Linked DNA regions of Homo sapiens. The main gene of each other region encodes a partner of the protein of the gene in region 2 in a complex. Links are inferred from orthologs where the notes say so. Each region holds a gene or a part of one and is shown on either strand. Other genes may lie near its edges.

What was found.
Region 1: the proteins of SYT1 (region 2) and SNAP25 are in contact, whole or in part, in a crystal structure (PDB 5KJ8), measured with the Rattus norvegicus proteins. The link is inferred for Homo sapiens from one-to-one orthologs. Residues at the interface, in NP_001028852.2 of Rattus norvegicus: Cys277, Arg281, Lys288, Val292, Leu294, Glu295, Asn336, Tyr338, Asn340, Arg398, Arg399, Pro400, Ala402, Trp404; in NP_112253.1 of Rattus norvegicus: Lys40, Asp41, Ile44, Leu47, Val48, Asp51, Glu52, Glu55, Gln56, Arg59.
Region 3: the proteins of SYT1 (region 2) and CPLX1 are in contact, whole or in part, in a crystal structure (PDB 5W5C), measured with the Rattus norvegicus proteins. The link is inferred for Homo sapiens from one-to-one orthologs. Residues at the interface, in NP_001028852.2 of Rattus norvegicus: Glu271, Thr383, Gly384, Glu386, Thr406, Leu407, Gln408, Glu412, Met416; in NP_074055.1 of Rattus norvegicus: Val61, Met62, Gly65, Asp68, Lys69, Tyr70, Lys74.
Region 4: the proteins of SYT1 (region 2) and SV2A are in contact, whole or in part, in a crystal structure (PDB 4V11), measured with the Homo sapiens proteins. Residues at the interface, in NP_001129277.1 of Homo sapiens: Thr291, Lys314, Lys326, Lys327, Lys328, Glu342, Ser343, Phe344, Ser345; in NP_001315603.1 of Homo sapiens: Asp82, Thr84, Glu85, Gly86, His87, Asp88.

What each region holds. Positions count from the first base shown.
Region 1 is NC_000020.11:10,270,344-10,278,258, reverse strand, and holds part of SNAP25 (synaptosomal-associated protein 25), read right to left. Parts: intron 2,831-7,915; 5' UTR 2,768-2,830; coding exon 2,696-2,767; intron 575-2,695; coding exon 533-574; intron 1-532.
Region 2 is NC_000012.12:79,447,859-79,452,508, forward strand, and holds the end of SYT1 (synaptotagmin-1), read left to right. Parts: intron 1-1,059; coding exon 1,060-1,266; 3' UTR 1,267-4,150; downstream 4,151-4,650. UniProt on the Homo sapiens protein: Calcium sensor that participates in triggering neurotransmitter release at the synapse. May have a regulatory role in the membrane interactions during trafficking of synaptic vesicles at the active zone of the synapse.
Region 3 is NC_000004.12:822,520-831,197, forward strand, and holds the start of CPLX1 (complexin-1), read right to left. Parts: upstream 3,611-8,678; 5' UTR 3,527-3,610; intron 2,083-3,526; 5' UTR 2,004-2,082; coding exon 1,973-2,003; intron 1-1,972. UniProt on the Homo sapiens protein: Positively regulates a late step in exocytosis of various cytoplasmic vesicles, such as synaptic vesicles and other secretory vesicles.
Region 4 is NC_000001.11:149,914,285-149,922,702, forward strand, and holds the start of SV2A (synaptic vesicle glycoprotein 2A), read right to left. Parts: upstream 3,561-8,418; 5' UTR 3,455-3,560; intron 1-3,454. UniProt on the Homo sapiens protein: Plays a role in the control of regulated secretion in neural and endocrine cells, enhancing selectively low-frequency neurotransmission.

The DNA.
Region 1 (7,915 bases), on a different chromosome or scaffold from region 2:
TATTTCCCTTTGTTAAAGGGCTTTCCTATTTTTTCATAAATTTTAGTGCTTGACTTTAAATAGAACAATTTCTAAAAATGATACACCTATATGCGTACATATTTTTAAAAGTCATATATGTGGCTAAAGTTAGAACAGAATCTCAAGATTAGATGTAATTTATAGGCACAAAAATAATTACAAATAAAGTTTTATGTAGATAATTCCTTTGTATATTAAGAATTGCTCTAATTTGCTTAAAGTGATACAATCGTCTGTGATTTCTTGAGAGCACAGACTTGGAAATTCTATTATTCTCTGCTTCCCAGACCAGACTACAGAGGTGGCTTGGGCTGGGAAGGAGGGTGAAGGTGTCTTCATGGCTATCTGGCAACTTAAATACAGCATCTCCCTCATTCTGTGCCTTTCTGATAGGCTACATCCACACTGGAATCTAGGGGATCATGGCCCAAGGAAACATCATAGCAACTAGGAAAGGATGTATCAGCATAAGGGATTTGTTCCTTTATCTTAAAATACTGTCACTTCTTACCTCTTCAACCAGTTGCAGCATACGACGGGTGCTTTCCAGCGACTAAGATTTAAAAAACAAACAAACATAAACTTTATGAGTGCAGGATCCAGAGATCTTGGAAAATCAGAAATACTTTATTTACTTGAGAAACACAAAGGGTCTCTGTCACATATTCTTTTCAGTTGGCAAGTGAAACAAAAAATGTCATTACATTTTCAAACTCTTTCCTATCAGGCTTTTTACATGATCAGATTCCCTAAAGCAATTACATTACAGCTTATCTTCAGAAAATAAAAACCATATGAAGCTGATCTTGATATCAAAGACAAAGTAATCTGGAGAAGATAATTTTGCATGCTCAGAATGCATGAAAAATTATCTCAATTACTCAGAGGACTAATTTGGCCTCCCTGGGCCAGGAACATTAAATTTTAAACACAAACATAATTTTTCATGAATCGAGATGAATATAACATCAAGTTTCTTACAAAGCTCCTAGAAACACAATTGGAAGTTCTTATCAATACAAATTAAGTTGTTGCCTTAGGGTGAAAAAAATCAAGCATGTTTGAAATGACCAGCCTATAGGAGAGAGCTATAATAATTATCTTCATCCTTAGATAAGAAAAAACGAGACGGAAAGGCTGAGCTCTGCAATGGTCCCCCGGGCACTGCGTTGTCACTTTTTTCTCAGTTCTTTTGAAACGACTAGAATCCAACAACCAGTGTGATTTCTCAAAGCTTTGCTTTTAACTGACAAACTTATTTTGAACAAGATTCTGCAGGAACCTGAAGGATGTTAACTTCCCTGGAAGAGCTGTCAGCCAGCTGCTTTTTGAAATAGAATGGCTGCAAGCAGCAGTCTGCTGGTAAAGGTTTAACTACCGGCTCTCTGGGAAAAATACACAAATACATACATGTATTCAAGTTTATTATTTTACTGATATAAAGGATGAATAGCACAAAATTTATAAATAATAATAAAATATACAATACTCTCTTTATTGTAAATTCCGCATAGCCAATTGATTCTCACAGAAAACTTTTACTGATTTTTGCTGAACTTTTGTGTCTACAGCTAACCATGTGATGAACCAGAGTAGTTCTGACATGAATGTTGGTTGGATATTTTCATGTATATTAATGAGTAAGAAGAAAATTAAACAATGAAGGCATGTGTTGGAATTGTACTCATTTGTGAATGACAAAAAGGATTTCTTTGCCTTAGAGAATCATAATTTTCAAATACTGGAAGATTTCCTCTTTTTGTGTTATTCATAGTATAATGGCTGCAGACATACATACTTTTAACTTTAATCTGCATTATTAATATTTTCTCTACTTTTTAAAGTCTAGACAATCAGCAAAACAATAAGTCAAGTCCTGATCTGCAGTATTTGCAGATTCTTGGGTGATAAATACTCTTACTCTGTCTGATTTTTAAATTTTTAAATATTTTTAGAGATGGGAGTCTCTCTATGTTGCTCAGGCTGGTCATGAACTCTTGGCCTATGCGATCCTCCTGCCTCAGCCTCCCAAGTAGCCGAGATCACAGGTGAGAGCCGCTGTACCCAGCTCTGCCTGATTTTAAGCTACAACTTCATATTACTGATCATGAAGTTGGAAAGACACATGGTAACACATTATTATACCTTATTTCCACCCTACAGATAAAATGGATGAATCTCAAGATCATGGATAATAGTAAAATGTAGCAAAATAATTAGGAAGTGATGAAGTTTGAGTGTTTATTACTTTTGATTTTAATAGAATCTATCTAATTGTCAGTTTATGTAATTCAGTTTTAATAATGGCTGCATTTAGCAACCAGCTTGCAAAGTTCCTGAAAATGTTAACAATCTGTTCTCGGAACTGAGCCTTCTCCAGCATAGCACTGAATTAAGGCACCCAAAGACATTGCTTTCTTTTCTTAGAGGACCTTGACTTCTCAAGGTTTCTGGAAATTGAGAGTTAGGGCCAAGACAGTAATTTGTATGCAGCTTCTATAATCAACTTATTCTGGTCCACAGAAGCCTTAGGTGTACAGAAAATCAAAGTCATATTACTTTTTCTAAAAGAAATTGAGACATTGAAAGAAAGGCTTTCCCTACCTGAACCTGAATAAGACAAACCACTCAGGCCTTCATCTTTTGCCTCCCTTCCTAGGTCTCCACTCCTTACCTCATCAGCCAACTGGTCAGCCCTTCGCTGCATCTCCTCCAGCTCATTGCGCATGTCTGCGTCTTCGGCCATGGTAGCGGTGGGGAGTGGCTGGGCGCCTGGGCTGGGGGGTCAGTGACGGGTTTGGCTCTGGACCTGGGAAGAAGTAGATATGAAAATATGAGAGCTTATATATGTTCATGTAGGTGTGTGCAAAGACCAGAAAATCTAAATGGCCCATACTCAGTCCACATGACTCAGTTTTCTGATCTGAAAGCCATACTCAGACAGGGGTCAACAGAATTGTGCTGTTTCTCCGAAGGATGCCACAAATACATACTTGCCAATTCTGCCATGGAGATAGACACCTATCTACCGATGAAATATTTTTAAAGAGACAAACTACCCAAGGGTTGGGAATGATGAGGTTGGAGGGATGTGGTTTGGGGTTAGTGTACTTTTATCATCACATTTATTTATTTATTTATTTATTTATTTATTTATTTATTTATTTAAATAGCTCTATTAAGGTATAACAGATATACAGTCCACCCCACATATTTGAAGTGTACAACTTGAGAAGTTTTGACATATGTATACACCCAGGAAACCATGACTGCAATCAAAACAATGAACATAGCCATTACTCCTCCAAATTTCCTACCCACCCACTGGCCCCTGCCCTATCCCACATGTCTATGCCCAGAAAACTGCTGATCTACTTTCTTTTTTTTATTTTTTTGAGACAGAGTCTCGCTCTGTCGCCCAGGCTGGAGTGCAGTGGCGTGATCTCAGCTCACTGCAAGCTCTGCCTCCCGGGTTCACGCCATTCTCCTGCCTCAGCCTCCCGAGTAGCTGGGACTACAGGTGCCTACCACCACACCTGGCTAATTTTTTGTATTTTTAGTAGAGACGGGGTTTCACTGTGTTGGCCAGGATGGTCTCGATCTCCTGACCTTGTGATCCGCCTGCCTTGGCCTCCCAAAGTGCTGGGATTACAGGCGTGAGCCACCGCACCCAGCCTGATCTACTTTCTGTCACTATACATTAGTTTGCATTTCCTATAATTTTATATAAATAAAAATCACATAGTGTGTACTACTTTTTGTCTGCCTTCTTTCACTTAGCATAATTATTTTGAGATTTATCTATGTTGCAGCATGTATTAATAGTTCATTCAATTTTTGTTGTTGAATAGTGTTCCATTGTGTTTAGAAGCATGTGGAAGCCAAAGGCAGAAAATCTTTCATCTATTTCAGTCATCATCAGAGGTTGCCAAAAGGGCTTGTGTGAGGGTGAGCTGCTATCACTCCAAAGAGGGTGGGTCCTTGGTCCTGAAAGGTGACCAGTCCATTTCTTGGCTACTCTCTTGAAATCCCACATGGTACAAATGACAGGTACAAGGACTGGGTCTATTCCGGAGAGAGCCCTCCTTCCTCCTTCCTTCTCAAATATTTATTGAGCACCTGTAATATGCCAGGCAGTGTTAGGCACTAGGGATACAGTGATGGACAAGATAGGCAAATTCCCTGCCTTTACAGAATTCAGTCTAATTGGGGAGATGCAAGCAAAAGAGGGAATTAGATGATTCAGGATGATGATAATTACACTAGGGGACATGTCTGGTATCATGGGTGCCCATGGGTTTGCAACAGGCCTTTCTGAGGAAGCCATGTCCCCAGGCCATCGAAGGGAAGGGGGCAAAGGGCCCGATGGGGTAGGTATCTGATAGAATGAAAAATTCTCTGTGAGTAGCACATTTGAAGAAGGCATGGGCTCTTGTCTTGTAGCGGAGATGGTCAACTGTGCACTTTAACCTCACTGTTGCATGGTAGAGCATGATCTCTGGGAAATGGCTGTGCAGCCAGGAATTACATTTCTAATTCCCATTGCAAGGAAGTGGTGCTCTGTGGCTAGAGACAGTCCATGAGTGGTAGTAGAACAAAGTGTGTCCCTGTCAGTCTAAGGCAGTTCAGAAGCAGGTATTCTCCTCCCTCTGTTTCTCCTTCTGCCAGAAATACAGTCTTAAAGGATGGTTAAGCCATGAGACCATGAGACAGAAGGAACTTGGGCCCTCCATATCCCTGCATGGAGAAAAATGACTCCTGGCCAGTAACACCTGAACTCTTACGTGAGCAAACAATATATTTCTATTATGCTATGGAAAATGTGAGGGTTGTTTTGTTATAGCAGCCTGTGTTACACTAACTAGTAAATGTCTGAAGAAACTTAAAATGAAACAGAAACATTGCATATGAGCATGATTTCCTAACCAAAAAACATATTTTTGTTTGTCTTTCTATTGAAAACCGAAGCTGGGAGAGGAAATTAGATTTGGGGCCTTGGGGCACTACCATGTTTATTATTATTATTATTTGCATGAGAATGAGAATCACTTTTCGGAAAAATAAAAATGAAAATTCTGTATGAAAAAAAAAATCAGGAACATACTCATTGGGAGGCAAGGGAACAAAAGTTCCCAGAGGCAGGTCCTAGATCTGATCCTGGGGGAGGAGGCTCTGCCATCTCACCCTCCAGGTCCACGATTCTATTGCTTTCTCAACAAGGATGGAATTTTAGTACATATTAATATCACTTTCCAAATTTATTGCTCTTGTGAAAAAGGAGAAATCATACTCTTTAGGGTTCTTAGAAGGAATCCTAAAGTGAAACTTCTTTGGAGATAACAGGTTTCACCGTTCTCTACCCAGTGATTGCCGGGCAAAGCAACAAATATGGAATCTGAGTAAAAAAAGAAATAACAAAACTTCAGGGTTGCCTTATTCTACCACTGGCATTAAACAAATAATGGAGTAAGTTTATGTGAGGTTAGCTTTATGGGCAGTCATTTTATAACTGACAGAGCATCTTACGATGAGCCTGCTAATTTTCGAATGCGTGTTCTGGCCACTAGAACATGTGCTCGTGAGATGATGTAGAGATGTGAACACTGTGTTTTATTTAAATACATGAGACTTTATTTCCATGTCTCCATTTTACAAATTAGGATCTAGAAAACAGACACTGGAAGGAATTTACACCAAGTCACTCCAGAATCTTAAGATGCACAAAAATGAAATTTTAGTATTCCCAAGTGACCGGGGATCTACCCTCCAGAATAAAGCAGTGGACCCGTGGGGAAGTTGAGTAGACTATGGACCATAGTTCAGTGGAGTGGGTGGATAAAGGCATTGATGTCAGAAAGACCCAGCTGGACCGCTGGCTCTGGCGCTCAGAAGCTGGGTGAGTCTGGGTAAGTTCATCACCATCTCTGAGCTTTAGTTTTCTCAACAGGACAAACAATGCCAATCTCATGGGGTTGTTGAGGGGAATAAATTACAGAAAAGTTCTGGCCAACATTTTTTGTAAAAAAGGATGTGGAGCTTAATATTCAGAAAGCCTCACTAATTCAGGACAGCCCTACACCCTTGGCTAAGAGTGGAACAAACCCGGTATTTGTTAATCAGCTTTCCTCTACTAACGGCTAGGCACAAGACATGTTGCTGTGGTGCTGAGCACCCATGGAAGCTTGAAACCAGGGAAACCAGCAGAGTGCCTGAGCCTCCAGTCTCCAAGCAGCACCTCTCACAGGAGTACCACGAGGAGACAAACAAGAGTGCCTTCTGGCCCCACGCTCCATCTTTATATTTTGCTGCTGGGTTCCTGGGGGGGAAATGTGTATCTTCGGCCTAAGCAAGCCATTGACCTTTCCTTTTCACAGGCCAGTTTATTAGAAGGCAGGGGTCCATGTGCTTTCAGACTTGTAGTGCTATTGCTCTGTCCCACTCCTTCAGGTCTATTTGCTGATGAATGTTTCTGTGCATGCTCTCTCTCTTCTCTCTCTCTCTCTCGCTCTCCCTCTCTCTCACACATACTCAAGTTTCCTGTGTTTCCTTGGCAATCTCCTCTCAAAGTTGTTATTCTCAGCATGTGAAGAACAGCTGTAGGGCGCCCTGGCTCCAAGCTGACAGCAGCCTATCCAGGCCTGGCTGATGGGCAGCTGGTGCGATGGCGGAGAAGCCATGTGGCAGATACCCTTGGTTTCATCACTTTCACGGTTCCCCCAGGAACTCCCACACCTTTGTCCTGCTCTAAAACATGGAGATACGTCTGTGATTTGGGAGGAGGGCTGATGAATCTGGTGGATCTCAAACACACAGCATTTCAAAGCTGAAAAAGCAATTCCCCCTCTCCTAATAAGAACGGCTGGAGAGTGGGCGCTGAGCGTACCTCCAGATCTTCTGTTGGGATGTTTACTGCTAGTGTTTAATAAATTGTTCCTATAAACCCCAAACTCATGCATGTTAGCATTCTAAAAGACAGCAGCTGAAGAGGCATAAGGATGTTTATTAATAGTAATTTCAGTAGCTGAAAGGACGTTAGTAGTGAAGTGGCATTTATGATCAAGGCAGCCTGCAATACATCCCTCATATTAGCACAATAAACTGCCATCTTGTGTGTTGCAGAGCAGGTAGAAAGAGGAAACTAGGAAGCAGAAGAAATTAGGAAGAAAAGCCACTCAAAACTATTCCCCGAGGCTCTGATTGTAAGACAAACTCCCAGTCTATTAAGAGCCTAACAGTATCTAATTAATTATCTCAAATCACCAGTGCTTATTAGCAAAGGGTCTGACCCCTAGTAAGGGTTCAATTCATGTTAACTGACATGGATGAACTGTTCTGACACTCCCATGTAGCATTCAGTGTTCCCAAATCAGCACTTTACAAGGTGTGGTCCAGGACAGAGCTTCTGAAACTTCCCCCAGAGTCAGAATATGCAGAAACCTTGTTAAAATGGATTGCTGGGCCCTACCCTCAGGGATTCTAATTCAGTTGGTCTGAAATGGGGTCACTGATTCTGCATTTCTTTCTTTCTTTTTTTTTTTTGAGACAGAGTTTCACTCTGTCACCTTGGCTGGAGTGCAGTGGTGCCATCTCAGCTCACTGCAACCTCTGCCTCCTGGTTCAAGTAATTCTGCTGCCTCAGCCTCCCAAGCAGCTGGGATTACAGGTGCATGCCACCACGCCCAGCTAATTTTTTGTATTTTTAGTAGAGATAGGGTTTCACCATGTTGGCCAGGCTGGTCTCGAACTCCTCACCTCAAGAGATCCACCTGCCTTGGCCTCCCAAAGTGCTGGTATTACAGGCGTGAGCCATCGTGGCCAGCTGATTCTGCATTTCCAGCCAGCCTTCAGGTGATGCTGAAGCTGCTGGTTCACAGAGCACACGTTGAGTAGCTCT
Region 2 (4,650 bases):
GTCTCCAGCATATAAAGTCCACTAAAGGGCCCTAACTCAGCTGGTTCTTAATCTGGCCCTAGCTTTTATAATTACATTTTCTGCTACTTTCAACTCTGGCAATAAATGTTACATATTCCATTTATTTTAAACTCTTACCTTTACACTCAGCTGCTAGATTGAAACCATCACATATTCTGCTAAGTAAATTCATTACTTAGGAAGTAGAACTGAAATTTGCTTTTAAAAAGTATATATTTTATACCATAATGGTATAGGTTTGCTTTCATCAGTTCAATCATTCAGAAAAGGAAGTCATCAAATAAACTTTCAAAATCTGATGGAATCATTGAATAAATCCCGTGTAGCCTAAACTGATATTTCCATTTGATATCAATGCCAGATACATTGTAGTTACTCAGTAAATGTTTACTAAGAGAACGTATGGATGAGAAAAAAATATCTTTATTACTACTTTTTAACCATACTTTTCACTATACTATCATGTTTTATGCTCACAATCATATGATTAGTTGAAATTCTATATTAATTCTATATTAATTTTTTTGTAACATGCTGTCCCCCCACCCTTAAAATCAGATTATTGCACATGGTTGCCTTGGGAATTGTAATCAAATAGAGTGGGCTGAACACCAATGCCAGAACTTTCACTGATAAGACAACTGAAGCAAATGAATTTAGAGGTTAGCACAAGTTGACACAGACTCCATGGCATGGAGGTTCACAGCATAGGCTCTGAAAACCAAACAACTCATTCCTTAAACAACCTCAGACAGGTTATATAACTTCTCAGAGCTTCAAGCATCCTTACCTGTATAATGGCAATATTAATAGGATCTATTATGAGAAGTAACTGAGTTCATTCATGTAAAAGACTTAGTGCAAAGTATATAATAAAAATTAACGTTTGAGTATTAAGATTCAAGTCATTTTCATCCTCATCCTAGTGCTTGGAGATTGATTCTTCTATTTCCAATTCTTTAGCGCTCAAGGACGCTTTATAGTCGGGCCTTATCTCTAGAGCTAGATGATTCATATTCATTTCATGGCTTCTTTCAGAAAGTGCAGGTGGTGGTAACTGTTTTGGACTATGACAAGATTGGCAAGAACGATGCCATCGGCAAAGTCTTTGTGGGCTACAACAGCACCGGCGCGGAGCTGCGACACTGGTCAGACATGCTGGCCAACCCCAGGCGACCTATTGCCCAGTGGCACACCCTGCAGGTAGAGGAGGAAGTTGATGCCATGCTGGCCGTCAAGAAGTAAAGGAAAGAAGAAGCCTTTCTGCATTTGCCCATATAGTGCTCTTTAGCCAGTATCTGTAAATACCTCAGTAATATGGGTCCTTTCATTTTTCCAGCCATGCATTCCTAACACAATTCAGTGGTACTTGGAATCCTGTTTTAATTTGCACAAATTTAAATGTAGAGAGCCCCTAAGTCCTTCATCATACCACTGCCCTCCAAATCTACTCTTCTTTTAAGCAATATGATGTGTAGATAGAGCATGAATGAAATTATTTATTGTATCACACTGTTGTATATACCAGTATGCTAAAGATTTATTTCTAGTTTGTGTATTTGTATGTTGTAAGCGTTTCCTAATCTGTGTATATCTAGATGTTTTTAATAAGATGTTCTATTTTAAACTATGTAAATTGACTGAGATATAGGAGAGCTGATAATATATTATACGGTAAATATAGTATCGTCTGCATTCCAGCAAAAATATCAACTCGTAAGGCACTAGTACAGTTAAACTGACATCTTAAAGGACAACTTAAACCTGAGCTTTCTATTGAATCATTTGAGTACCAAGATAAACTTACACCACATACTTGGTGGGTGAATCCAATTTTGTAGAATTCCTACACAGGCAAAATAGCATGATCTGAGCAGCAGCATCCAGGCTGACCTCAAGGAAGCATAGCCACAAAACAGAATAGCACCTGTCTGTACATATTTACAAAGCTAAAATAATGGCTTCACTCTTATATTTGAGGAAGCAACTGAACAGGAGTCAATGATTTCATATTACTGCATATAGAATAACAACAAGGTGTTCCGTGTGTGTGTGTGTGTGTGTGTGTGTGTGTGTGTGCACATTTGTTTGGGGATGGGGGAGAAGAAGCTAAGGGGAGAAGTCAACATTTATGAAATATTGCCTGACTATTTAAAAAGAAAAAAGTAGCTCTCCATTATCACCTTTATACAAAATGTACATCCTGTGAATTCTGTTCCAGATTTCACACCTACAATAATTCCAAAAGGTTTGCACATTAGAGTTTGTAACAAAATATTTTATTATATAAAACCAGGTTAGAAGGAATGCAGGATATTTTTAACACAACAATCTGTGCTTATTACACAAAATTACTTTGTGGTAAACAGACAGTATTGTAATCCCATCAAAAGATGAAAGAAAAACAAAAACAAAAACCAACAACAATTAGCCATAGTTCTGAATGCACTTCAATTAAGCCAAAACAGACAGCTAGTGATCTTTTTATATGCTCTTTTTACTTAAGTTTTAATTTGTCCTTTAAAAAAAGGTGAAACAAACCAAGAACAAGTTCTAGAAAACTGAAGCAACCTCTTATGTATACTAGATGCTTGATTTAGGAGGAGTTTTTAAACGTTTTCAATGTTATTATGTAGTAAATGACACTATTATGAAGCTACTAGTCATTCCATAAGAGTCTTAAAGGACTGCTCTGTGTAACACTGTGACTGCCGTGTGTGCTTAGACCCGTAGTTTCCTCAGTGGATAGCACTCAATTTATTCCGTAGTGATATTGTAACAATACTGCCATTCCCTTCTACTGCACTGCCCAAGGTGTGTGTAGCACAAACAGTTCTCATTACAAAGGACCAATTCAGAACTGAAAAGCTATGCATAGGACAAGGAAGATACATAGAATGGGGTGGAACACAGCATTTTGTCAAGCACTGTGCAATATTCCATATTTTTCCCCACTATGGTAGACAACCATTTCGTGGAAGGGCAGCCTATTATCCCACACTGCATCTAGCCTTTTGTCCCATTCACTTCTGTGATCCATTTTAATTTCCAGGCCACAAGACAGTAGTGATGCTCTGAAATGAAAGTTTGTCTTCACAAATATCAAAACAAAATGGAGGAAAACTAAGCATTGGCCTCATGTTCAGTCTTCAGGATATCACACCACGTCTTTTCAAAAACTAAAGAGAATTCAAAAAGGGCTGATGGTAGGCTTTGAACATGGGGTTGGCTGTTTCCCAGTAAAACTGGAATTCCTGTCGTTACTGTTTCCTTATCAAAGAAGGGGCAAGCTCTTTTGCCTTTTAGGCCAGACATAGCAAACGCTTTATAATTGGCATAGACATAAAGGATAAAAGGAAAATAACCGTCTGCCGATGGTCCGTACTTCTTAAAAAACATAGGTAATAGAAAATATACACAAGTCAGAATGTGAAATTAAATAATGGTTTGAACAGAAAATTCAAACAAGACTCTTTCCAATTTAAAGGGCCAAACCCTACCAAAGAGAGGGAGTTGACTGGCTTTTAAAAAGTATTTAAATACCACAAATGACATTTAATTTCACTGTATTCAGCTTTAAGTTGTTCACAATGAAACCACACTTTCAAACAAGCAGGTTCAAGCTGCTGAATAGACATTATTTCTTGCATTAAAATACCACTAATGCATTCTCTTGCAACACTGCCAGACATGGGATTGTCACCATAGAATTAGTTGGTACTATGCCATCTTTCACTCTTTCACAAGTCAGTGATGGAACCTGCTTTATGACCAAGATTCATCCTCAAATAAGCCACATGTACCCTTCTGACAAAGCTGTGTAAAGTATTAGAATCTGATGCTCTAGAAAGATCCTAGTTGCCTTTGTGTATATTTACTGCCTGCTTGAGTGTTTCTATGTGTGGGTTTTCCCTGTATCTTGTAGAAATGTTGGGGTGTTTTCCTCTGCCATATGGCTCGTGGCCTGCGAGCCAACTATTTCAGCTGTATTTTACCTTCATTTTTGATGAGGTGATTTAAATTTTGTTTCACTTTGTGTAGTGAATTCCACAGTAGTTTTCTGATTGTTGTTAAAAATGACTTAACATATTACACAGATATTCAATAAAAATGTTTTATTTCCTGTTGATGTTGCTGCGTTCCCACTCTTTTCCTTGCCTGACTCTGGTGGTAAGCCAATGGCCTATTGACTTTGGGGGACTCCTGGAAGCAGCAGCAGCTAAACAAAACTGCACTGAATGCCAGCATCTGAGTCACATCTGAGTACAGAATAGCTAGAGGGAAAACAACACCCGGGAGCATTTGGCCATGACCGCGTGGTGTTCCTGGGCAGTGTCATTCTCAACATGTGTTTCTCTATTCCTGTGTGTCATCAGTTCATCTGGCGTACTCTGAGGCTTTTCACTTTGCCCAGCATGTGTCCTTCAGGGTTTTCACTCCAGAACCCAAGTCACACAGCTTCTCCAGAATGGGACGGAAAACAAAACTATTTAAACCCCAGTTTCAGAGGACAGTATGACACATTAAATTCTATGCCTACTACGATCGCTATGGGAAACAAGTAAATACTTTTCCTCCACTAAATTTAACATTTATCAAGTGCCTACTGTACTGGACGCTGAAGCCCAC
Region 3 (8,678 bases), on a different chromosome or scaffold from region 2:
TTCTGGGCTGTCATTTTCTTTCTCCAGCTCCCCCTCCCCGACCCTGTTTCTGGGTTCGCCTTTCTTTGAACGGCTTCCTGGGTGCCTCCTGCTCCCTCTCCTGCCAGCTTCTTTGTGTCCGGGGCTTGGTCTGTTTCTCAATAGTTCTCTTGGGGTCTCTGCCAAGCTCTGTCGTGCTGTCTGGAGGTTCCCCCATTTCCCATCTCTGTCTTGCTCTGTCTCACTCACACGCATCCTGAGACAGCAACAATGAGGCTCGCCGGGTGAGGGACAGAGGCGCAGAGGCAGAAAACAAGGTCTCGACTGGAAGCCCCCCACCAGCTCCCGCCCTCAGCAGCTCTGGCTCCGAGCCTCAACGTGCTCTGCAAAGCCAATGTGGGGTGCTCTGGGAAGCACTCAGCGTGGAGCCCCCCCAGGGTCTGCTGGCTGCCCCCGCTCAGCTCCACCACGCTGAGCGACGCCTGCCCGGTTGCTGCTGCTGGAGAAACTTTGGGCTGCCATGAAACAAAAAGGGAATTCAGGCTGGTAATTACCCAGCTAATTTCAGTCATGTAGACAGCCAAATAAGATATTTCAGTTTCTTACAAGCCCACCTCAGGGCCTGAATTAGCCAACTAATTAATTATCCGTAACAGCCTGGGACTCCCTGGGTGGAACGTGCGTCCCTCCCAGCGCAGATGCAGGCTTGTCCCTGAATCACAGCCCGGTGACGCAGCCATTATAATTAGACTCAACCTGACTCTTACCCTTGACCACGAAATCTCAGGGATGTGGCCCCAGGACAGGCTCAATATCTTTTCATTTAATTTGTGTTGAGTGGAAGCACAGCCACCCTCCGGGAGACAGCCAGGCAGGCAGCTCCTGCCCTGGGGGAAGCGGCGCCTGCCCTCTGTACACCCTTGTCCCTGGCCCCTCGAACCCGGCCAGCTCCCCCACTGCAGAAATGCTCCCAGGAGGCCTGACTCACTCCAAGGTGTGAATGGCATCAGGTGAGGGTGCTCCCCCGTGGAGGCCACCCAAGCAAGACGTCTCTAGTGGTAGAATCGGGCACCGGCCACAGGTTCCCCTCACAGGAGTTCTGGGCACTGGTGCTGGGGGAACACAGGATGGACGGCTCTGGGCAAAACTGAGACTCGCCACGACAGCCCCGAGGCCTGAGTTGACCCATCAGCTCTGCCGGGACACGTCTGTACCAGCATGGCCCAGGCCCTGCCCACCTCCTGGTCTAGGAACCCAGCCACTGCTCTTGACATGGTCTCTGGCCACAATGACAGCCTTGGGTCAAGTGGGGACGAGGTTCCTTTCAAATAGCAGACAGCAGGTTGGAAGGGGGCCTGGCCCCACCCCAGTACACACAAAAAAGGCTGCACGTCCCGCCTGGGAGGCAGTCGAGACACACAAGCTGTTTCGGGCCTTTTCCTTCGCTCCCGTAACCAGCAAGCCCTGGTCCCTGAGGATGGCGCTGCCTCACCCAAGTGAAACCCACAGGGTCCTCGCCAGATGCACAGGCCAGCTCTGTCCCCACGCCTGTCCCTGAGGCTGCCACCTGCATCCTGCTCTCCCACCGCTTGGCTCTCCTCATCTGGAAGGAAGCCCCCTTGGGGGCTGCCCAGCCTGGCCAGTTAGAATTGGCCCTGTAAAGCCTACGCCAGAGTGTGCACCCTCCCCCAGGACGTGCATCAGCATGGTCCATGGGCTCTGCCCCGACCACAGCAGTGGGGCAGAGTGAGCTTACAGGGCAGCCCCTGTCCCGCCAGGAACACCAGTTCTGGCTCGGGGCCTCGAAAAGGGCCGGGCTGGGGGCGCTGCTGGGCACGGTCCTTGCTCCTCTGCCCCAGGCTCCTGTGCAGGGCTGCGTGGGTGGCCGTGTGGCTGCAGGGGCGCTGCTGCGGTGGGCCAGATGAGGAGCAGCTGCTGTGGTGGTCTCTCCATGTCCCCTCAGCCCCTCCCCACCCCACCTCCCGCTTCCTACCTCCTAGAGCCTGCTTCATCACAAACTCCATGGCGATTGCTCTGCTTCCACAGTGGCTCCTCCAGGGGTCAGAACTCACACGCAAGTATGGCCGGGAGCGAGTGTTCTTCCTGGGGGAGAGTGAAGTGGTCACAGGTCACCCTAAGCAGGCCCCTGCCTGGCCTTCCCCAGAGACCATCATTCCTTACCCGCAATACCTTGTGGGCTGGACCCTCCCCCACCTGGAGCGGCTGCCTGGGAAGTCCTTCGTGAGGGGCTTCTGTCCCCACACCCAAACCAGGACCCCAGAGGACCTGAAAATGGTCTCCCCAGCTCCTGGGGTGTCTGAAGCCTCTGCAGGGAGGGCTGCTGATGGCTTAGGGGGCATCGCTCAGAGGCGCCTGGCGCCAGGCTGCGGAAGCAGGGGCGGGGCCCAGGGGGCGTTTGAAGGTGACTGCTCCGCTCTGCAGCTCAGTGTCTGGAGCGGCGCCTCCGCGGTGGTCCCGAGCCCAGGGCCGTGGAGAAGGGTTGGGGGTGGGTCTTTGAGCGGGTACCCTTCAGGGCGGGCTCCTGTGGCTTCTGACCAGGGAGGCTTGGGTGACCCTATCCCTGACGGCACTGCAGTCAGTGTGCCCCCCACATGGCCCGCGTAGAAGAGATCGGGGTTGGGGAGAAACTTCAGGGGGCTCAGCCTTCAGGAAACACGTGGGGACGGGGACAGAGCACCCCCGCCCCGGGGGCGTGCATGGGGTGGGGTGGGGCGCTCTGGTCCCCTCTTGGGAAGCCGCTTTCTGAAATCACAGCAGCCGCAGTGAGCCCCCCGGTTTTGCGGGGTCTCTCCTATCGGGGAACCCCAGGTCCCTGGAGAGACACTGTTTGACGGTTCACCCCTCGCCCTCCGCAGAGGAAGGAGACTCGCGCGGGGACTGGGAGGGCGGCGGGCGGGGAGCGCCCCTCGGAGGCTTTGCCGCAGCGCCGATTCTCCTCCAAACTTCTCCCCTGGCTCCCGCGGCGCGGGGAAGGAGGGCACGGCCGGGCCCCGCAGACCCGCAGGGCTCCGGCCCCGCCGCACCCGCACCCCTCGGCTTTGCGGGCGGGCGAGCGGCCCTCAGGCGGGAGCGCGCCAGGAGAGGAAAGAAAGAGGGCGAGGGAGGAGAGGGGGAGCCTCGAGACAGGAAGAAGCGAGGAGGAGGCCGGGCGCGGGCCGGGACCGCGGGGGCCGCTTCAGCACCGCGGCAGTGGACAGCGCCCGCCCCGGACCCCGCGCGCGCGGAGCCCGGGAGAGAAACGGGGGCTGCGGGGAGAAGCCGGGGTCGGGGGGAGAAACGGGGGCCGGAGGGAGAGGCCGGAGCCGGGGGGAGAAGCCGGAGCCGGGGAGGAGAGACCCGGGGAGCGGAGGCCGGGGGGAGGAGCTGGGCGAAGCCGGGGCCGCGGGGAGAAGGGGGGCCGGGAAGGAGAAACCGGGGCCGGCGGGAGAAGCGGGGAGAAGCGGGGGCCGGGGAGGAGACGCCGGGGCCGGGAGGGGAGACCCGGGGAGCGGAGGCCGGGCGCGCGCTGCGCTCGGGGCGCGGTTACCTTCCCGGGGCGCGGGCGGTCAGCGGCGGGGCGCGCTCGGGCCGGCTGGGTCCATGTGGCGCCCGGTGAGCTGCGGCGGCGGCTGAAGGGCACCGCGAGGAGGGCGCGTCACTCGCAGGCGCTCCCCGCCCCCCGCCCGCGTCCGAGCGTGACGAGCACGGGGAGGGGAGCGCCGAGGGGCGGGGCCGCGGGCGCCGGGCGGGGGCGGGGGTGGACCCGGGGGCGGGGGCGGAGGCGGACCCGGGGGCGGGGGGCGGGGGGTGGACCCGGGGCGGGGGCGGGGGGTGGACCCGGGGGCGGGGGCGGGGGGCGGGGGCGGGGGGCGGACCCGGGGCGGGGGCGGGGGGTGGACCCGGGGCGGGGGCGGGGGTGGACCCGGGGGCGGGGGCGGGGGGCGGGGGCGGGGGCGGGGGGTGGACCCGGGGCGGGGGCGGGGGTGGACCCGGGGGCGGGGGCGGGGGTGGACCCGAGTGACGCGCCCCCGCCTCCCTCCAACCCGGCCCGGGCTCGACCTTCCCCCGGCGGGCGCCTGCGACCCCCGCCCGCCCCTGATCTGGGCGCCCCCGGCTCTGCCCCCCCGCCCCCAGCCCGACGGTGCGGGCCTGCTCCCTACAGGGTCCGCGCGGGGCCGGTGGGTGCAAAACCCTCGGGCGGAGAAGTCGCTGCCTCCCGAGCGGAGGGGCCAGGGGTTGGGAGTCGCTGCCGCCCCCATTCTCCGGTGACCGTGTCCCTGAGCGCCGCCCGCCGCCCCGACCCCTCTGCCCCGACCTCCCCGTATCGCAGGGCGGGAGAAGGGGGCCCCCAGACCCCTGAAAACCCACGCAAGCCCCTCGCAGCCAGAGACCCGCAGGCCGGCCCGGGCTCACTTTCGGTGTAACGGAGTCGCTGTTTCCTTTACCGGGACGAAGGCCAGAGACCCCACCGCTCCCTCCCCTGGCCCCCGGGATTTCCTCTGCAGCGGACGCGGCACTGCGGGAGAGCGGGGTCGCCGCAAGGTCGGCCCTGCGGTTCGCGCTGTGCAGTGTCGGGAGCCAGGCGGCGGGAGGGATGGGGCGCACCGCGACCCTAGAGCTGCCCTGTGCTCCTGGCGGGGTGGGGGTGGGGAGGGGGGAGGGGGGCCGCTGCCGGTGGCCGCCGCACTAACTTGTCACTGTCCCCTCCCTGCTGAGTCCTGGGGACTCCCCTGGCGCAGGGAAGATGCGGCCCCTCCCCCGCCCTCAGCCCCATCCCCTCCGGTGCCCCGTGTTTAGCCTGAGCTCAGGAGGACTCAGAGGCCTGGACTCCCAGCCTTGGCCCCAGCGCCTCTGCCCCCGTCCCCACTCTTCTGCTGACTTGGCAGGGGACCCTTCGCAGAGGAAGGGAGCGCTGGGGGAGAGGGAAGGGTGAAGGCACCAGGGCCAAGCCCATGGGGGCTCCCTGAGACAGCCATGAGGGTCCCGTGGGCCTGGGGGTTCACAGGCAACCTCCCAGAGGGGGACCCATGCCCTAGGATTGGGGTCTCTTCAGCCTCCCTGGCTGGAAGCCATGGGCACCCCCAGCACCGTCCCTTCCTCTCTCCCGGGATCTGAGCCAAGTGGGCTCAGAACGTTGGGCCCAGGGACAGGAGGCAGGACACATGCCTGGGGGCCCGGCCTGAGCCCCAGCCTGCTCTGCTCCATCTGCTCCTCTAGTCTCCTCAGGACCTGGGAGGGGACAGCAAGGGTGAGATGTTCGGGTCCAAGAAAGAGGTCACTTCTCGGCCCTGGTGCTTTCTCTCTCCATCCCTAACTGGGTGGATAACCCAACAGCTAACCCGGACAGTAACCCCAGAGAGGACCCCAGGGGTGACCCCCTGAGCCCAGAGCCAGGCTCATGACTGACCCTGCCACCTCCACAAGCTGCATGCAAGGGATATGCTGGTGCCTTTGGGACAGTCTGCACAGGAGTGCAGGGAGGTGCCCGTTCTTCCGAGCAGAAGCACTGGACTCCTAGGCTGACCCCTCCCCGTTCTACAACCCAGGCCAGCCTGAGCTCCAAGCACACCTGGAGCTGGGGCCTGGGGCACAGAGGACAGAGACCCTCTGCCAGCCCTCACGTTCTGCCCTGTCTTCCTCTGCCTCTCTCTCTGTCTCTTTCTCCGTCGCTGTATCTCTCTGTCACTGTGTCTTTCTGCCCGTCTCTCTGTCTCTATCTTTCTGTCTCTGTCTTTCTCTGTCACTGTATCTGTCTCTGTGTCTTTTTGTCTCTCTGTCTCTTTCTATCTCTGTCTCTGTCTTTCTGTCTTTTCTTTCTCTGTCGCTGTATCTCTCTGTCTCTGTGTCTGTCTCTGTCTCTCTGTGTCCGTCTCTCTCTGTCTCTGCCTGTCCCTGTTGTTACTTGTTACATCCAGCCACACATGCAGTGACTGCTTCTCAGCTCTCACACTTGTCTAGGCCCTAACCTGGGGGTGGGGGGGCCCAGCCACAACTTGGGGGAAATAGACAAGGTTGGTGACAGCCCCAGGTCAGAGTGACAAGTGGCCTAGGGAAGGGAAAGTGGGCATCTGCTGGAGGAGTTGAGGGTGGTGCCCACTCAGGGTGTGTGAGCTGGGCCAGGGGAAGGGAAAGTGGGCATCTGCTGGAGGGCTTCAGGGTGGTGCCCACTCAGGGTGTGTGAGCCAGGCCAGGGCTGCCCAGCTGGGATGGGAGTCACAGGCTGCTGGCCAGGAGCCACCCAGGCTCCGTTCCAGTGGCAGAAGGTGGTGACGCGGCAAAAGGCCTCTGCCAACCCCCACGGGCCACTTGGCCACACCAGGGCAGGTGCGGTTGGCCCTTCGAGTGCCCAGAGGAGGCCCTGAGCCCTGGAGAAGAAGCCCCGCAGACCTCCAGCCGGCTGGAAAGGGGCAGGAGCTGAGTGAGAAAGGGGCCAGCAGGTTGAAGGCCAGGTTGAAGATCCAGGCAGGGAAAACATTTTGCAGGCCGGGGAAGAGTTGGAGGCCACCCCGTCCAGGCGGATGTTGGGAGAAGGAGGAGGTGGGGTGTGGAGCAAGTCCGGGAGGAGCAGGATGGAGCTCCAACGAGGGCTCCCCCAGAGGTCAGCTTGGAGAAGTGTGAGTGCTTGGCTGGGCCGAGCCCTGGCTGTGGGGCCTGTGCCAGCCGGTTGGACATGGATGGTACCCCCGGCCCAGCCAGCCCTCTGCTCCTCAGATGCTCCATCCCCAGCCCCAGTGAGGCCAGGGACCCCAGGAGCACAAAGCAGGACTGTGTGAGGACCATGTGGCACTGGGTTTGAGACCCTGCGGGGTCACTCCAGACAGCAGGGAAAGGAGGCAGCTGCCCTGCTGCAACCTCCAGCTCTAGCCTCTCTGGAAGCCCCTGCCAAGGCCTCCACTGCCACCCTGCTCCCATCTTCTGGGTCCCATCTGCCCATAGCCCTCCTGGGTGCCAGGCATCCTCCTTGCCTTGGGCCAGGAAAGGGTCTGGGAAGCACTGTCAGGGTTTCCTGGGGTTGGCCTTCAGTCCTGGCGTGGGGTGTGGCCAGGGGGCCATGTCCCCCATGGGCCCAGCAGGAGGGCAGCGCTCTGCCACACCGCATGTGTGGATCCGGCCCACAGCACCCACCCAGAACCTTCAAACACAAACTTAATAGTTACATGTGCTGAGTGATTCAGTCTGAGTGCCGACACCATCCACGCTGTCATTTTCCTGCTGGATTTTGATATTCCAAAAGTAACAACACGTGAAAAGCGTGAGCAAAGCAAGATGTAGACCCTTGCCGTTTGCCAGAGCTGGGGCAGGACCTGGGCTGAGTGGAGGGTGTCCTCGCCTGGGAAGCGCCCTGAACCCGTTCCCCTCCTCCACTGGGTGAGAGAGGTCCAGCATCTAGCCGGGGGAAGCCAGCGCCTGGGAGGTCAGCCTAGTGGGCCCCTGGGAGCAGAGCAGAGGTACTGCCGCAGCTGAGCGAATGCTTGTGCCCCAGGCCCTGCCCTGGGGTCCTGGGATCCACGGCTGCCCGGTCACACGGTGCCCAGATCTCATGGTGCCCCAGGGCACACATGGGGCCCGCTCTGAGCTGATCTCTTGCGGCCCAGCATGGTCCCAACCATGCAGTCAGCAGCACCAGGTAGCCGGGTCAGCGGCACTCACCCCTGGCTGGAGGGAGCCTCTGAGCTGGGCAAGGCCAGGTCCCGGGCAGCCCACCCGCCAGGCCAGGGCCCTCCAGCTTCAGGGGGAGCCACCGGCTCCAGCCCTGCGCTGAGTGTGGGGTGTGGATCTGGCCTCCTTCAGCCGGGGACCCTGATCCACCAGGGACCCAGGGCAACAAAAGAGCCGCCCGTGGGGAGTGGGCTTGGGGTGGACAAACCCAGAGGCTGTGGAGGAAAGGGGCCTTGCTGTGGGCTGCAGCTGCTCGAGGGACTCCGCCCTCCCAGCCTCAACACCTCAGGGCAGGAAGGAGGGGCTTCAGGGGCCTTCCCGGAGGACAGGGTGAGAGACAGCTCGTCTGGGAGAGGCAGGGCTGGCCCAGGGGTGTGGCTGGCTGGGTGGTGAGCACAGTGGGTGGTGCTGGAATTTGGAGATGGGCAAGAGATCCTGGGAGCTGCCAGTCGTGGGGAGGAGAAGTTTCCCGGGAGGATCCTGGGCCAAACACCTGCACTCCTGGGACCCAGAGCCTCAGATGCTCCTTAGGGTCTTGAGTGCCGTGTGATGGAGCCGGAAGGGGTAGGCGGGGGGCAGAGGGCAGGGAGAGCTGGGTTGAAGCCAGGCTCAGAACGCCGAATGCCCCTTCCCTCCCTCCCTCTCCTCCAGTGACACCTGGAGTGAGGCCACATCACATGCATGTGGGTATTTTTGGGAGCATTTCATGCCCAGGAAGTGGGAGGAGGAGCTATTTTGGCTCCCCAGGAGCACGGGACCCCTCCGGCAGCCCTGGTGCTCACTTAGGGAAAGGGCGTGCACGGCTCAGCCGGGCTGTGGCCTTCTCTGTGTCCCCTAGGGCTTGACCTCCTGACTGTCGGACTTTGTGTCCATGGGTGTGGTGGGGGCACAGTGGCGGAAGTGAGTCCCTGGGGCTGTCCCTGGAGGGCAGAGCAGGGGCATCTTAGGGTGGGGTGGGCCTGGGAAGGTGCGGGAGGGCAGCACCGTCTCACAGGGCAGTGGGCGCCAAGGCAGTGCTGCAGGACAGGGCAGTCACCCCA
Region 4 (8,418 bases), on a different chromosome or scaffold from region 2:
TGTGGTGCAGAGATGGTCTTCTCGCTTTAGGCTCCCATCCACACACTAAAAAGGGATGGCTATCTGGGCTAACCGGGTCACTCACATAGAAGTCCCCTTACTTTGACCTTGGAGGCCTGGCCTGTGGAATTTGCTCCAAAGTCGCAGTCACCTACCCCCAAACCCACCCCAGCCCTTGCTTTATCACCAATCTGCAAAGAACTAAACAGGAAATATGAGAAACCAGAATTCCCTTCTTTAGTCTTGCCTGGGTTTCTTACTAGGGGTGGAGTTGAGGAGGATGTGTAAGAGGACAAGCCCTCCAACCTGTGGCCTTCCCTCCTCTGATGGCATCTGAAGGCAGGGGCTTCCACTGTCCTTCCCTCAGGTCCCATGTTTACAGGCTTCAACAAGGAGGGATTTTCTCTCAACATAGTCTAATGGGTAAATGCTCAGCTTCCAGAGTCACAAAGACATGGGGTTGACTTCCTGTTTTGGCAAATACTAGCTAAGGGACCAAGCCTCAGTTTCTTCTTGTTTAAAAAGGGGAAAGTAAGGGTCGAATGATATAATGTATCTATGCTCCTTACCATAAGTCACCTGGCACATAAAAATGATGAATAAATATTAATTATTAATTTTGTGGTGACAGTAATATAGTGAAATGCCCTATACTACCTCATAAGGTCCCCAGATGAAAGCTATCTTGGATGCTCTTTAGGGTGAGCAGCAGGAAGGGACACTGGCAAGGAGAATCCTGGTTCAGGGCAAAGCACATGACTGTTAGGGGTGACCTAAGTTGAAATCCCAACTCTGCCACTTACTAACTGATCTCAGTCAGGGTAGTTAACCTCCCTAAGCCTCAGTGTCCATCTATTTTAACTGGGGATAATTAAATTGGGAGACTGTTTCTTGGAGTTGATGTGAGAATGTAATCTCACAGTAGATACTCTATGTTAGTTTTCTTCCTTCCTATGATGTTGAAAGTGGGAAAGAAACAGGAAGCAGCAAGGGACAACAGGGGGGTCATACTTAGATGCTGTTGCCCAGCATCCTTGCAAACAGAGTCCCAAGACACCCCTATCTATGTTTCAACTAATTCCAGTAGCTGGGCCCACATTAACTACCTCCAGAAGAACAAGGGAAGATCCAGAAAAGGGGGACCTGGAACCCAAGTAAAGTGGAGGAAAGATGGAAAGCTAAGAAAGAGGTGATGACTGTCCACTGCCACCTTGCTTCAGAATGTCATAGATAGGCCCCCTTTCCACAGATGGGGGTGAGAATGGAAATGACTGTCAAATGCATACATTTCCAACATGAGGTTCTAAGGCCTACAGTTGCATCCCATCCCTCCAGGGCCTCCCTTCCTAATCCCCCTTAATCCTTTCTGCTCCTCCTCCAGGAGTCAAGGAAGAAGGAGTCCACAAACACCGCATTGCGTAGGAGGCGGATGTAGAATAAAGGGGGTTTGGGTGTCCCCCCAAAAAAGACATTCTCCAGAGGAAGGCATGGGATAGCCCCCTTCCTTCATAGGAGCAGAGGAAGCAGGCCTAGATTCTGATCAGAAATCATCCCCCTAAAAATATCCTGCCTCCGGTGCTCCCACCCATCCAGGGCCTTCATTAAAACACACACACACACACACACACGCACACACACACACACGCCCTGGTAGAAGACGGTAAGCAATGCTATGTGGTTCAGAGAGAAGCACTGGCAAGCAGCGCCTTATCCCCTCAGGACAGATGTAAGCAGTGGACCACGGTGACCAGAAGCAGTGACCCCTATGTCACCTTTTCTTCATGGTTCAGGGCCCAACCATCCCCCATGAAAGAGCTGGAACTGCGGAATCCCCTCAGCGCATGGCAATTTGCTAGCTTTCCTCTCTTTCCTAACCAGGATCTCCCCTCCAGCCCTGAAGGAGGCAGGACCCACCAGGAGCCATACTCTATGTTTGTTGACCCTATTTCCCCCTGAGAGGGGCACGTAGGGCAGGGAAGCCTTCCACAACCACAGCAGGATATGAGGTCTCAACAGCCAGCTTCCTCAGGGCCAGCAAGCCCAGGAGGTCAGGAGAGAAAGAAAGAAGACAAATTCTTTGAGCTGGTGAGGAAGTGGTGCTATTTTTAGCCCCCAAAACAGCACAGGGTGGCTAAGCCTGGGGGAGTGAGACAAGACTTGGAGAGGTGGAGGTTAAAGGAGACAAGGTTCAGGGTTACAAGGTCCTAGGCTGGCTGACTTCACCTGACAGGAAAAAATGTGCCCAGGAGATTTTCTGCAGAGGGTGGAGACAGGCAGGGGACTCCAGAGCAAATGCTTTCTTTCAGAACAGCTCATCCAGCCCTGGGTCCAGAACCCCCCACCCTCCCAGTCAAAGCCCCTGACTTTGGGGTCCACCCAGATCCCCAGGCCTTCCTAGCTCAGGTGACAAGGTCATTAAAAAGCAATCACTTATCAAAACGTCCGCGGGGGCGGGGGTAGAATGTGGGAGGTGCGGGAGCACCCCTTCCCCATGACAGCCCGGTCATCGAACTTCAGCCCCCACCCAGGACCATCAAGACTGCGCCTCCCCTCCCCACATCCTACCAAGGTTAGGAAGATAGGAGCACCCACAGTTCTGAGGGATAAAAATGAGGGTGTCAGCTGAGAATGCACACTGAGGAATACGGAGAGGCAGAGAGGGGGACGCAGGGAGAGACCTCCGCATGCACAGACATAGAGACCGCCCCTATCAGCATTTGCAGCGACCCCCCCACACCCCATCTTGCCTCAGCTCCGGAATAAGGGAAAAGCCCCCAGAACTGACTAAATCCCTGCTCTGAGCACCTCCTCCACCCTTGGTCCTGCTGCTAGACAAGTGTCCACCTTCACTCAACATCCCTTCCCCCCACCCCGGAGCAACTGCCGCCAGCCCCCGCCATCCATGCCCCCAACACCTGGCGGCTCTACATCTCTGTCTCCCCAGTATTTCCATTCTTCACTCCCCTTCCCTCCATCCTTCACCTGCCCTTCTTCCCCTGCCCCCCACCCACCCAAGTCCAGGCGTGCACACTGAGGCAGCATCCATTCTCCAGCCCCAGCCAAGGTCATTTATCATTCATCCTGGGGGTGGGGGGACGTCAAGGTGAGGAGGGGATAGGAGTTTGAGGGAACCTCATCCCACCTCACAACCCCACCACCACGTTAATCTCCGAAGGGGATAGTGGGGACTTGGTTAAGGTAGAGAAAAACACCCCTCCTCCCCATTCACCAATATTATACATATGCGTGTGTGTGTGTGTGTCCTGAAGAGCACAACTGAAATAAATGTCCATCCCCAAACCACCACCAACCCACCAACCCCCCTCACCCCTAGAGAGGGGATCGTCACCCTCCCCATAAGCAAAGCATCGGAGGATAAAATGGCTGCAAGGCAAGGCAAAGATGCTTCTGCCAGGGGCGGGGAGGAGGTGAGCGACTGAGAAAGGGGTCTCACCTGGTCTAGGTTCCCCGGGTAAGGAGTCCCGGGCGAGGACGGGGGTCCCGGCCGCGGGCGGAGGCGGCAGCGGCGACTGCTCCCGGCACCAGGGAAGCGGCAATGCAGACCTGCCACCCCCCTTCCACCACTCCAGCCCCGCCTCCGCCCCCCCCTACCCCGCGCCACTGAGCATCGGGAGAGACCATTGGTGGGGAGAGGAGAAAAGAGGATGGGGAGGGAGTCAGGGCACGGGGAGAAATGATGAAAGGGCCGGAGGTTGTCACAAGAACAGCTGGAAATGGCACCCAGCCCTTCCCAGGCCCTTCCTAGTAAAAGATAGAAGGAACTAAAGAAAAAAACAGTGATGTTAGGAAGACAAGTGGGAAGACAGGGAGATGGGGAATGTGGCAGCCCCTTCCTTAGCACCCCAGTCTCAGTATGGCAGGACCCAATAATTTCAGGGGCTTTTGCTGCCTTCAAAACACCTCCCTTGCCTTCTCCACTGCTCTCAAACTCCTTTTTCACAACAGTCTCCCAAATCCAGAGTGCTCCTATTCCAAGTTTACCTGGACATTTTAGAGAAAGCAGAGATAACAAGGTGTGGTTTCTATCCTGAACTGCCAGAGTCAGAGACCCCTGGATTCCTTCCATCTCTTTCCTCACAAAACAGTCCAGGTTACTTATTTACAGTGGACACCTCCTCATCCTGTCCATTCAGTTGGTGGTAGCAGAAGTACTGGGGAAGTTGAGGGATTTTTACAGACCTGACCAACCGGACAGTTCCCCTTCCATTAATTTGCTCCAATGACTCAAAAAGGATCCTCTCAATACCCTTCTCCATTTTCTCTTACTCTCCTCTACCTCCCTCCCCTCCCCTCCACACACTTGTACTTCCCGGGCAGGAAGAAGTAAATTGTTTCAGCTTTTCCCTTCATCTTTCCTTTGCTCTTGCATCAATAACCTGGACTCAGAGATCCAAGACATGCCACTTGGTGACACTTGATGACCATCCCTGCCGAAGGAGTGAGAGGGAATATGGTGATTTGGGGAAATACATCCTGAATGTGTCTATGCCAGATAAGGTCAGGACCTTCCAGACAGCACTGACCTGGGCTTGGACCTGGGTTCTCACTGCTAACAAGCTGTCAACTCTTGGTCAAGTTCTCCACATCTGTGAACTTCAGGTTTCTCATCTGGAAAAGGGGGGCTTGGACTAGATACTGCATCAGGTCCCTCTCAGATCTAATAGCGTGTGATTCTGCCTTACTAAATGTGGAGGCTTCAGAATGCTGATATATATACATGGAGAAGGCTGACAGGCTATGTCCGAAGAGACCACACAGGTAACATTTGCCAGGTTGAATTTACCTCTGACAGGGACACGGGCCTGGGCTTTGCAGACTCCAAAGCTGGATCTTGGAAATAATCATTCATGCCAACAAAGTTCACAATCTTCTGAAATATAAAGCCATAATACATAAATATTAATTTATCATAAATATTTAACTGTCACTCAGACTGAAAACTCATATCTACATGTCTAGTACATTCTCTCCCTGAAGCCAAATCAGAATCATAATGTCAATGTATAAATGCACAATGACATTACTGGAGGATTTGTATCTTTAATGGCATCTGGCCATCTGCAATAAGCAGCCATGCCAATGGGTCCAGAAAACTCTTCTTGGCAACAATCTTCTACCCCCACCTCTTTGCTATTGGCAGCCTTGCCAGCACTCCTGGACTACTCTGAATGTGACGGCTTTCCAGGATGGTGCTTGGACTGGCCTCAGGGACTCTCCCTTTACTAGACTTTCATTGCTGACCCGTCTTCAGGTTAACACACATTCTTTTTCTTTTTTTTTTTTTTTTTGAGACAGAGTCTCACTCTGTCGCCCAGGCTGGAGTGCAGTGGCGCAATCTCAGCTCACTGTAACCTCCACCTCCGGTGTTCAAGTGATTCTCCTGCCTCAGCCTTCCCAGTAGCTGGGACTACAGGCACGAGCCACCACACCCAGTTAACTTTTTTTTTTTTTTTTGAGACAGAGTCTTGCTCCGTCGCCCAGGCTGGAGTGCAGTGGCACAATCTCGGCTCACTGCAAGCTCCGCCTCCCGGGTTCATGCCATTCTCCTGCCTCAGCCTCCCGAGTAGCTGGGACTACAGGTGCCCGCCACCACACCCGGCTAATTTTTTGTATTTTTAGGAGAGACGGGGTTTCACTGTGTTAGCCAGGATGGTCTCGATCTCCTGACCTTGTGATCCGCCCGCCTCAGCCTCCCAAAGTGCTGGGATTACAGGCGTGAGCCACTGCGCCTGGCTAACTTTTGTATTGTTAATGGAGACAGGGTTTCACCGTGTTGGCCAGGCTGCTCTCGAACTCCGGACCTCAAGTGATCCACTCACCTCTGCCTCCCAAAGTGCTGGGATTACAGGCGTGAGCCACCGCACCCAGCCAAATATGTTAACATTTTCAATTAGGTTATAGCCAAGTCCAGCAGGAGAGCATTTGGCCAGCAGGGAGCCATTTCTTCCCTTTAAGGTGACTTTGCCTACTCTCCACTGATACCTTATTTGCTAAAATAGAAATCTTGCATACTTTTAGAGTGAAAACTTATACCATCAGTCCTCCATATCCATGGGTTTGGCATCCATGGATTCAACCAACTGTGGATGGAAAATGTAGTTAGGCCTATGATGGTTGCATTTGTACTGAACATGTATAGACATTCTCCTCTTGACATTTATTTCCTAAACAATACAGTATAACAACTACTTGCATAGTATTTACACTGCATTAGGTGTCACAAGTAATCTAGAGATGATTTAAAACACACTGGAGGATGTGCCTAGGTTATATGCAAATGTGCCATTTTATATAAGAGATTTGAGCATTTGTGAATTTTGATTATCTGTGGAGGGTCCTGGAACCAATCCCTTGAGAATACACAAATGACTGTATATATTTTCAAGTTCTGAGGGAAGACCTCATCATTTTCCCCCAGGTGCCAGTGCCCTGTCCCACCAACCACTCCTTTGTAGTCCCCTTTGCTGGGGCCATTTAATTTTAGAGTTCCTATGGGCTCAGTCCCAGGGGCGGGAAGCCTTCTACTCTCTTCTTGCTCACCACAGGCAGTCCCGACTTTAATACTGCCTATATGCTGATGATTCCCATTTATATCTGCAGTCCAGACCTTCCCATCAAGCCCAGACTCAAAATCTCTGTCTATTCAATATCACCACACGAACATCTAATAAGCATATCAAACTGGGGCAGCTAGAATTTCCGAGCCAACAGCCTCCAGGCTGAAGCAGCTGCCTCCCCTTACCTCAATTTTGTTTCAAATGGTTCCCTGCCATGATGTGAAAAAGGGCTGAAAAATGGTTTTTGGGAGCTCCCTAACTGGCTCTGACCTCAGCCTGCCTCCAATCCCAAACAGCTCTAGTGCATTATACACCATGCTATTTATCAATCTGTTTCTCCTCAGAAACATCCCATCCACCTGGATTGAATTTCTCCTTGCCTGGGAAAGGTCTATCCTTCCTTGAAGATTAAATGCAGGTATCACCTTTTTCCCAGGAAGTTTTCCTGGACTTTTCTTTTTTTAAGGTGGGAGGTGGGGGACAGTTTCGCTCTTGTTGCCCAGGCTGGAGTGCAATGGCTTGATCTCGGCTCACTGCAACCTCCACCTACCAGATTTAAGCGATTCTCCTGTCTCAGCCTCCTGAGTAGCTGGGATTACAGGCGCCCACCACTGCACCTGGCTAATTTTTGGTATTTCTAGTAGAGACGGAGTTTCACCATGTTGCCCAGGCTGGTCTCGAACTCCTGACCTCAGGTGGTCTGCCCGCCTCAGCCTCCCAAAGTGCTGGGCTTACAGGCGTGAGCCACTGTGCCTGGCCGTTTTCCTGGACTTTCATGCCAGAATAGGTAACTTTCTTCCTGCTCTCAAAATATTTTGTTTCATTAACAATCTCTTATGTGTCAGTTTTGACAGCAGAACTGCCTTGCTTATCTTTGAATCCTCAGCTGCCACCAACAGACATCCTTTGCAGGTACCATAAAAATGTTAATGAGAATGATGGACGAGAACAAGGGGGCCATGCTCACTTCTTGCCTAGAATTTAGTAAAGTTCACAGTTACATAAGCCAGAGGGCACTTCAAGGAAGGGGTGACTTAACAGGATTAATGTGGCAAAGAACATGGGGGAGAAAAAGGCCATTGGATTTGGTCTACTGAAAAGTCTTTAAACTGAGATTTACACGTGATGAAAATCAAGTTTGGAAGGACTGAGAAATGAGAAAAAAAATTGAAATACAAACTCCTTATCTGAGATGACTGTTTACAGACATCTGTAGGAACAGAACAAAATGGAACACGTATGGAACATTTACTGTCTCCATTTACTCATTTTGTTTTGTAATTATGTAAGACATCTATATTGTTCCAAATGAAAAACACATTAACACAGTATACTCAGAGAATCCAGCTTCCCTCAATATCCACTCCCTCCCCAGTGTTATCAATTTCCATTAGTATTTGGTTTATCCTTTTTTTTTTTTTTTTTTTTTTGAGACAGAGTCTCGCTCTGTCGCCCAGGCTGGAGTGCAATGGCGTGATCTCGGCTCACTGCAGCCTCCGCCTCCCAGGTTCAAGTGATTCTCCTGCCTCAGCCTCCTGAGTAGCTGGTTTACCCATTTTTAAAAACGTTAATACATATATATATATATATGCTACCCTTAGAGAAGGTAGCACACTACACACATTATTTTCTTCACTTGGAGATCTCTCCACAGCAGTACGTAGAGATCTTCACTTGGAGATCCTTTTTAAAGCTTTTTTTACATTCCTTTTTACAGCTGCACAGTACTCTGCTGCATGAATTTATCAGTTTATTCAACCGTCCCTTTACTGATGGAGATGTGAGTTTCCAATCTACTGCCATTATAACAGTGCTGCAATGAATTGCATAGTGCATGTTA